Linked DNA regions of Homo sapiens. The protein of the gene in region 1 purifies or fractionates together with the protein of each later gene. This does not show direct contact. Each region holds a gene or a part of one and is shown in the gene's direction. Other genes may lie near its edges.

Region 1 (3,824 bases):
GTCAAATGCAGCAGAGCAGTCCTGTAATGGTCACTGAAAAAATGCACAATAGATTTGGTCATTAGAAGGAAGACTGTGAACCAGGAGCTGAGTAAGTCCTTGTGGTAGAGTGCTTTGAATGCCAGACTTTGGTCGGTGGAAGAATGATTAAATGTTATTGAGCACGAAAGTGAGATGATCAGAACACTACTTTTTTATTTTTCTGGCAGCAGTGTGAAGGATGAGAAAGGAGGGAAAGCTCAATTTAGGTTGGTAGAGGCACAGATTGAACAAGGGCTTGGATCAAGATGATAATCTTGCTTGGAAACAGGTTAGCGTAAGAGCTGTTAGGCAGTAGTGTCTTCAAAATTTGGTCATCACTGGATGTAATGAGTAAAGAAGTAGCCTAAAAGATGACATTTTAAGGTTTTCAGTGTGGATAACAAGGAGAATAGGGGTAGCATTTACTGAAACAGGGACATTAGCAGAAGCAAGACTGGAAGATGAAATCATTTTTTATTTTTAAACTTTGATTTATTAAGCATATGCTATTGAGTGGCACTGTTATTGAGTTATTAGGCACTGTTACGGTACTAGAGATACAGCAGTGAACATAATAGGCAAGATCCCTACTTTCATGGCACTTTACCTTCAGAAGTGAGGTGAAGACCAAATTATAAAAGGACAAAGTAATTTAAGACAAATAAGACAAAACTAGGTGATGATACAGTGATATATTGAGGGGAGCTTTTAGATGGGATGGTCAGGAATGGCATTTCTAAAGAGGAGAGATTTGAACTCAGACCAGAATATTACAAAGGAATCAACTATGCAAAGATCTGGGTGCAAAGGCATCCCCACTTAGACTGGAGAGTATATGCAAAGTCCCTAAGAAGGAAATGAGCTTGATTTATTTGAGGGCCAGAAGAGAGGCCAGTATATCAGGTGCAGAGTGAGCAAGGGAGAGACTAATAGAGATGAGCTCTGAGAAGTCAATAGAATTAAACTTAAGTGGGGCCTCGGAGGTCTTGCTCTGGAGTTTGGTGGCTTACTGATGGCAGTGGAAATAAAGCAGTATGTTGAACTTAGCTGTCTGTGAAACATCTAGATGAAGTCAATTAACGGGCTTCAATATACAAACTCAAATATAATTTGCCTCTGTTATTCATTGAAATAACTTTCCAAGTTGTTTAGGCATTGAACAAAGAAATGCTCACAATATGGAGGCTTGAGGAGTGTGTCAAGGACATGGTCAGGGGACCAGAGGGATCAGGAATCTCTAGCAGTTCTTCCCCACCCCTCACCCCCAGACTTAGCTTTGACTTGAAACTCATCTAGCAGTTCTTTACCAAAATAAAGGTCATCTTAAATATTATTGCGACCTTTAAAGTAATGACTGTTATATAAATGTTATGAGAAAAGTAGTCAGAGAATCACGGCCAAAAATACCTGTGTCTTCAGGGGATGTAAAGGGTACTTACCAACTTAAAATACCTGCAGCTCCATAGGGACCATGCTGTAGATTTTGTATAGTGCTTGTTCAGACAGTACTCTCATTTCTAGAAATGCATTTTTTGCAGTAAACAAAGTGTGTGTATCACTGTGCTTCTTGGTACACAAGTAGTTTGAATAGATTTTGTAGCCAAGGTCATCCTTAAGCCATCTAGTTTTACTGAATACATGTTCAAAAACACTGAAACAAAATAATTATACCTTTTGTTTATGTATTGCTTTATAATTTATATAGCCTTTACCCCTGGAAAATCAACTTGATCCTCAGGAACAGCTCTTTAAAGTAGATAGGGAGCAGAAATTTTATGGAAGTCAGTGTTACTATTTTAGAGTTGAGGAAACTGAGGATCTCTGAGTGCACAGTCATAAATTTACAACTCTCACTTCACTTGCATTGCTTTACTTACCACACCATGCTAATTCAAAGGTGTACAAAAATGTAAATTTTAGTAGAGGGTTTGTATCCTTACTAAAACAGTGACAAAATAAATTTTTTAATGTGCATGTTAGTTATGGGTGCTACCAGAAGGATTAACGGTGCTGTGGATACGCAGAGGAGAGTGAGATTGACTTTGGCTGGGAGAGTCAGAGGTTTAATTTTGTTTAGAAAATGTGTACTGTTTTCTTACTTGGTACTTTTTATTGCCTCTTCTTGGTTGCCCCATACATTTAAGGTACTACATGTGCAGCTTTGAAATAACCTCCCCCACCCTTTTTTTGTTTTTTGTTTTTTGTTTTTTTTTTTGAGACAGAGTCTCACTCTTGACGCCCAGGCTGGAGTGCAGTGGCACAATTTCGGCTCACTGAAACCTCTGCCTCCCGGGTTCAAGCGATTCTGCTGCCTCAGCTTCCCAAGTAGCTGGGACTACAGGTGTGTGCTACCACACCTGGCTAATTTTTTGTATTTTTAATAGAGATGGGGTTTCACCGTGTTAGCTAGGATGGTCTCCATCTCCTGACCTCGTGTTCCACCTGCCTCAGCCTCCAAAAGTGCTGGGATTACAGGCCTGAGCCACCACGCCTGGCCTGAAAGAAACCCTTTTATTTTGTATGCAGGACCGGTATGTTTGTTTCTGCTAGCATATTTTATTGTTATTTTGAGACAGAGTCTCGCTCTGTCGCCCAGGCTGCACAGTCTCAGCTCACTGCAAGCTCTGCCTCCCAGGTTCATGCCATTCTCCTTCCTAAGCCTCCTGAGTAGCGAGTAGCTGGGACTACAGGCGCCCGCCACCACGCCCGGCTAATTTTTTGTATTTTTAGTAGAGGCTGGGTTTCACCATGTTAGCCAGGATGGTCTCGATCTCCTGACCTTGTGATCTGACATCTCAGCCTCCCAAAGTGACATATTTTATTCTTGTATTGCCACTGAACTCAGCAGAGATGAATTGGTAACAGTAGCTACCATGTAATGAGCAATTCCGTGCCAGCACTCTGGTAGAGGATTTGTAAATTTACTTAATACTTACATCAACTTTCTGAGGTAGAAACATTCTTTCATAAATTGGTATTTTCTTTTCAGTCCATTCACATACTTGTTATTCCCACACCTGATGGAGAGAATGTAGAACTGTGTGAAAGAAAAGATAATTATAAGGCATTGTAGGCCGGGCACGGTGGCTCACACCTGTAATTCCAGCACTTTGGGAGGCCAAAGCAGGTGAATCACCTGAGGTCAGGAGTTTGAGACCAGCCTGGCAAACATGGCAAAACCCTGTCTCTACTAAAAATACAAAAAAAATTAGCTGGGCATGGTGGCACACGCCTGTCATCCCAGCTACTAGGGAGGCTGAAGAAGAAGAATTGCTTGAACCCAGGAGGTGGAGGTTGCAGTGAGCCGAGATCGTGCTACTGCACTCCAGCCTGGGCGACAGAGCAAGACTCCATCTCAAAAAAAAAAAAAAAAAAAAAAAGCATTGTATTTCAGGATAATGTTAAGCCATGCCAATAGATTTTTTTATTGTTGTTTTATTGTGCATTATTTATTATATTTTTCCCAAAGTGAAGAAGCCAAGCTGGTATATATACTAATCTGAGTGATGAAGTCTAAGCTATATAACATGAATGAATAAAGTAATAATATCTTAAATGTCTTTTTATGATTACAGTGACAGTATGTAGTAATCTTGGGTGGTTTTGCATTTCAAAAACCACTTTATGTATACACTAAAAAAAGTCGAATCAATAAAGAGATGTTTATTTAAACTATTTAGGAATGCAAGATGTCCATAAAACTTAATCCTTTGTTTAGTGACTTTTCACTCCTGTATTTTCTTGTTATGATAAGATATGTTGCTTACCGTGGAAATGGTAATAAAGCTTTGTGTTTATATAAC
Region 2 (3,714 bases), on another chromosome or scaffold:
AATCATTCAAGACAAAAGCAAACCAGATGTGTAAAGATCCTGAGGCAAAAACAACTCCAAGGAGCCAGGTATGGTGGCCTGTAGTCCCAGCCACTTGGGAGGCTGAGACAGGAGGGTCGATTGAGTCCAGGAGTTTGAGGTTACATCAAGCAATGATTGCACCACTGCACTTCAGCCTGGTTGACAGAGTGAGAACCTATCTCTAACAAACAACAATAAAAAAACAATTCCAAAGAGTGTTTGAGGATCTGAAAGAAGGCCTGTATGGTTGGAGTATAATAGTAAGAGGGAGATTTGTAGATGAGAGTGGAGAAGAAATAAAAATCAGATTATTGAAGGGACTTATGTATCATGGTAAGGAGTTTTTTTTTTTTTTCTCAAGGCAGTAGAAAGCTTAAGCAGAGGAGTGATATAATCTGATTTATATTTTTAAAAGAGTTTGCTATATGTATGTTATGCCTCATTTTTTTTTAAATTTTTTATTTTTAGATGGAGTCTTGCTCTGTTGCCCAGGCTGGACTGCAGTGGCACGATCTCAGCTCACTGCAAGCTCCACTTCCCGGGTTCATGCCATTCTCCTGCCTCAGCCTCCTGAGTAGCTGGGACTATAGGCGCCCACCACCACGCCCGGCTAAGTTTTTTCTATTTTTTAGTAGAGACGCGGTTTCACTGTGTTAGCCAGGATGGTCTCAATCTCCTGACCTCGAGATCTGCCTGTCTCGGCCTCCCAAAGTGCTGGGATTACATGTGTGAGCCACCGCGCCTGGCTGTTATACATCAGTTTTTAAAGAGAGACATTAAGAAATAAAGATGACTCTGGCTACTGTGTGGAGGGTTGGAGAGAAGCAAAAGTGGAAGCAGACTGAATAAGGAGACTATTGCTGCAATTCATATAAGAGATGATGGTGTCCTGAAAGAGTGGTGGCAGTGAAAATTGGGAGAAGAGGACAGAGTCAAGATATATTTAGGAGGCAGAAATGACAGGTCTTGATGATGTATTATAAATGGAGAATGAAGAATAGAATAGAGAAAAATGAATAATTAGCTTTGAACTTTCTGGCTTGAGAAATGGGGTAAATGGGGTGTAATTTACTGAAACTGGAAAGATTTAGAAAGGAATAGATTCGAGGAATCAAGAGTTTGATTTCAGATTTCTTCAGTTTGGGATGCCCATGAGATTTCCAACTGGGGATACCAGATAGGCAGTTATACATGAGATTGGAGCACAGAGAGATGTGGGCTTAAAATATAAGTCTGCATCTCATCAGCTTATTCATATGGTATTTATATCTATGGATATGGCTGAGATCCCAAAAGGAGAGAGTGAAGAGAAAATAGAGAAGAGAGTCTAGGGCCAAACCCAAGGAAGCTTCAACACACAGATGAGGAGACTGACAAAGGAAACTGTCAAAGAACAGTCAGAGAGAAAGGTCAGGAGAATGTTTTGATGGTGGGGGCCAGAATATGCTGTCCCAAAATAAGAAGGATTGTTGAGCTGAAGGCAAGTTAAAAGAAGCAGATACAGGCTGGGTGCAGTGGGCTCATGCCTGTAATCTTAGCATTTTGGGAGGCTAAAGTGGACAGATTGCCTGAGCTCAGGAGTTCGAGACCAGCCTGGGCAACATGATGGAACACCATCTCTACTAAAATACAAAAAAAAAAAAAAAAAAAAAAATTAGCCAGGCATGGTGGCATGTGCCTGTAGTCCCAGCTACTCAGGAGGCTGAGGCACGAGAATTACTTGGACCTAGGAGGCAGAGACTGCAGTGAGCTGATATCTCGCCACTGCACTCCAGCTTGGGCAACAGAGCAAGGCTCTATCTCAAATTTAAAAAATAATAATCATGATAATAATAAAAGAAGCAGATATAGGAGAGGTCTTCTGCCCTCCCTGTATTTGCCTAAAAAACCATAAATTTACAAAGACAAAAGTTATCCTACTTCCACCTCCCTCCTCTGCCTCCCACCACCAGGGAGAACAAAGGTTAACCACTGAAGATAACTTTGGACTCTTATTGGCCTGGAAATGGTACTGCTTTACAAATTAGCCTTTATCTGCCATTCATTTGCCTTCCCCCAAGTAGCTACCCATTAGAGACTCAAAGTCCTTAAAGGTCTTTTCCTTTGTCTTACACTTCTTTAAAAATTTATTGTTCTTTGTTGAAGATGCTATATAAGCTGGAATTCTAAGCCACCTTTTTGAGAACTGCTCATTCTCTGGGTGTCTGTCATGTATATATGAAATGTACATGTTAATAAACTTCTGTTTCCTTTTTTTTCTTGTTAATCTGCCTTTTGTAACAGGGGTCCAGTCCATCTAAGAACTTATTGGGGTTATTCTACATGACAAAGAACTCATGAGAATAAGTGTTTCAAGAAGGGGATGACAAATGCTGCTGAGAGGTTTGATAAGATGAGGACTAAAATGTGACCATTGATTGTGGAAGTAATATAATGAACTTGACATGAGTTATGTTAGAAAATTACTGCTCAGGGACACCAAATTAGAGGAGACTGAGAAGTAATAGGAAATTGAAATAGCAGTTGTACCCAACCCTAAACTGTAATTGAACATAAACAGTTTATTTGATGGAGCTTTTCACGTGTCAACCAAAGGAGCAGTGTTAGATACATAAACATTGCTATGATGTCAGAGTTCCAATGTCATGGCCACTGGGATCACTTTGCCCAGACAGACCATTACCCTTCCTCTCCAGCTCTGACTTCTACTCTTCTAGAAGTCACTGGTATACTTTATGGTGTGTCTTCCAATCAGACTCTTGGGAATGTCTTTTATTGAAAACTCCTGTGGATGCATAATCATTTTCCCAAGACTCAGGGCAGATTTCACCTCCTCTGGAACCCCATTAACTTTCTCAAGTATAATTAACAATTTCTTCTTCTGGAGTCCCACAATACTTTACATATACTTTAGTTATTGCATGTATTAAGTTGGTTTCTAGTTGCTTGAGTGTATGTCCAACTAGACTGTGAGCACACTGAGGGAAGGAATTTGGCTTGGAAAGTAAAATTGGCTCCCAGTGTTTTATCTAAACAAATAGGCTCAATTTACAACAGGATTCCATCCTCTTACGCTGTGTATTCCCATCTCTTCCATGCTGCATCCCACCACCCTTCAATGTTATTACAATAAAATTAAGATCAAATAATTTATTCAGCTAATTTTTCTTGTTTTGGACAAAATAGACATCCTAATACATTTATAGCCAAAGTTTAATCTAGACACTAAAAGGAGCATATTTTGCCTTTAGGCTCTGTATTTCCCATCCCGTTCCCAGTCAAGATAATCACAACTGTATTCTTTAGGAAATTCTTCACAAAGAACCAAACATATGTTACTATGAAACTAGATTCTTGGTATCCTGGTGAAAAAACCTGCCCTCTTGCTTGTCTGTAAATACTGGCCTTGGCTGGGTGTGGTAGCTCATGTCTATGATTCCAACACTTTGGGAGGCCAAGGTGGGAGGATCTCTTGAGCTTCAGTGTTTGAGACCAGCCTGGGCAACATAGTGAGATCCCATTTCTATAAAATTTTTTTTAAAAAGCTAGCCTGGCATGGGAGCTTGTGCCTGTAGTTCCAGCTACTTGGGAGGCTAAGATGGGAGGATTGATTGAGCACAGGAGGTCGAGGCTGCAGTGACTGCATTTCAGCCTGGGTGACAGAGGGAAATCCTGTCTCAAAAAAATTAAACA

The links.
Region 2: the proteins of SP4 (region 1) and PCDHA4 purify together in Homo sapiens (affinity purification with mass spectrometry; one large-scale study listed by BioGRID and IntAct). This does not show direct contact.

Annotation. Positions count from the first base shown.
Region 1 is NC_000007.14:21,472,896-21,476,719, forward strand, and holds part of SP4 (transcription factor Sp4), read left to right. Parts: intron 1-3,824. UniProt on the Homo sapiens protein: Binds to GT and GC boxes promoters elements. Probable transcriptional activator.
Region 2 is NC_000005.10:141,005,744-141,009,457, forward strand, and holds part of PCDHA4 (protocadherin alpha-4 isoform 1 precursor), read left to right. Parts: intron 1-3,714. UniProt on the Homo sapiens protein: Calcium-dependent cell-adhesion protein involved in cells self-recognition and non-self discrimination. Thereby, it is involved in the establishment and maintenance of specific neuronal connections in the brain.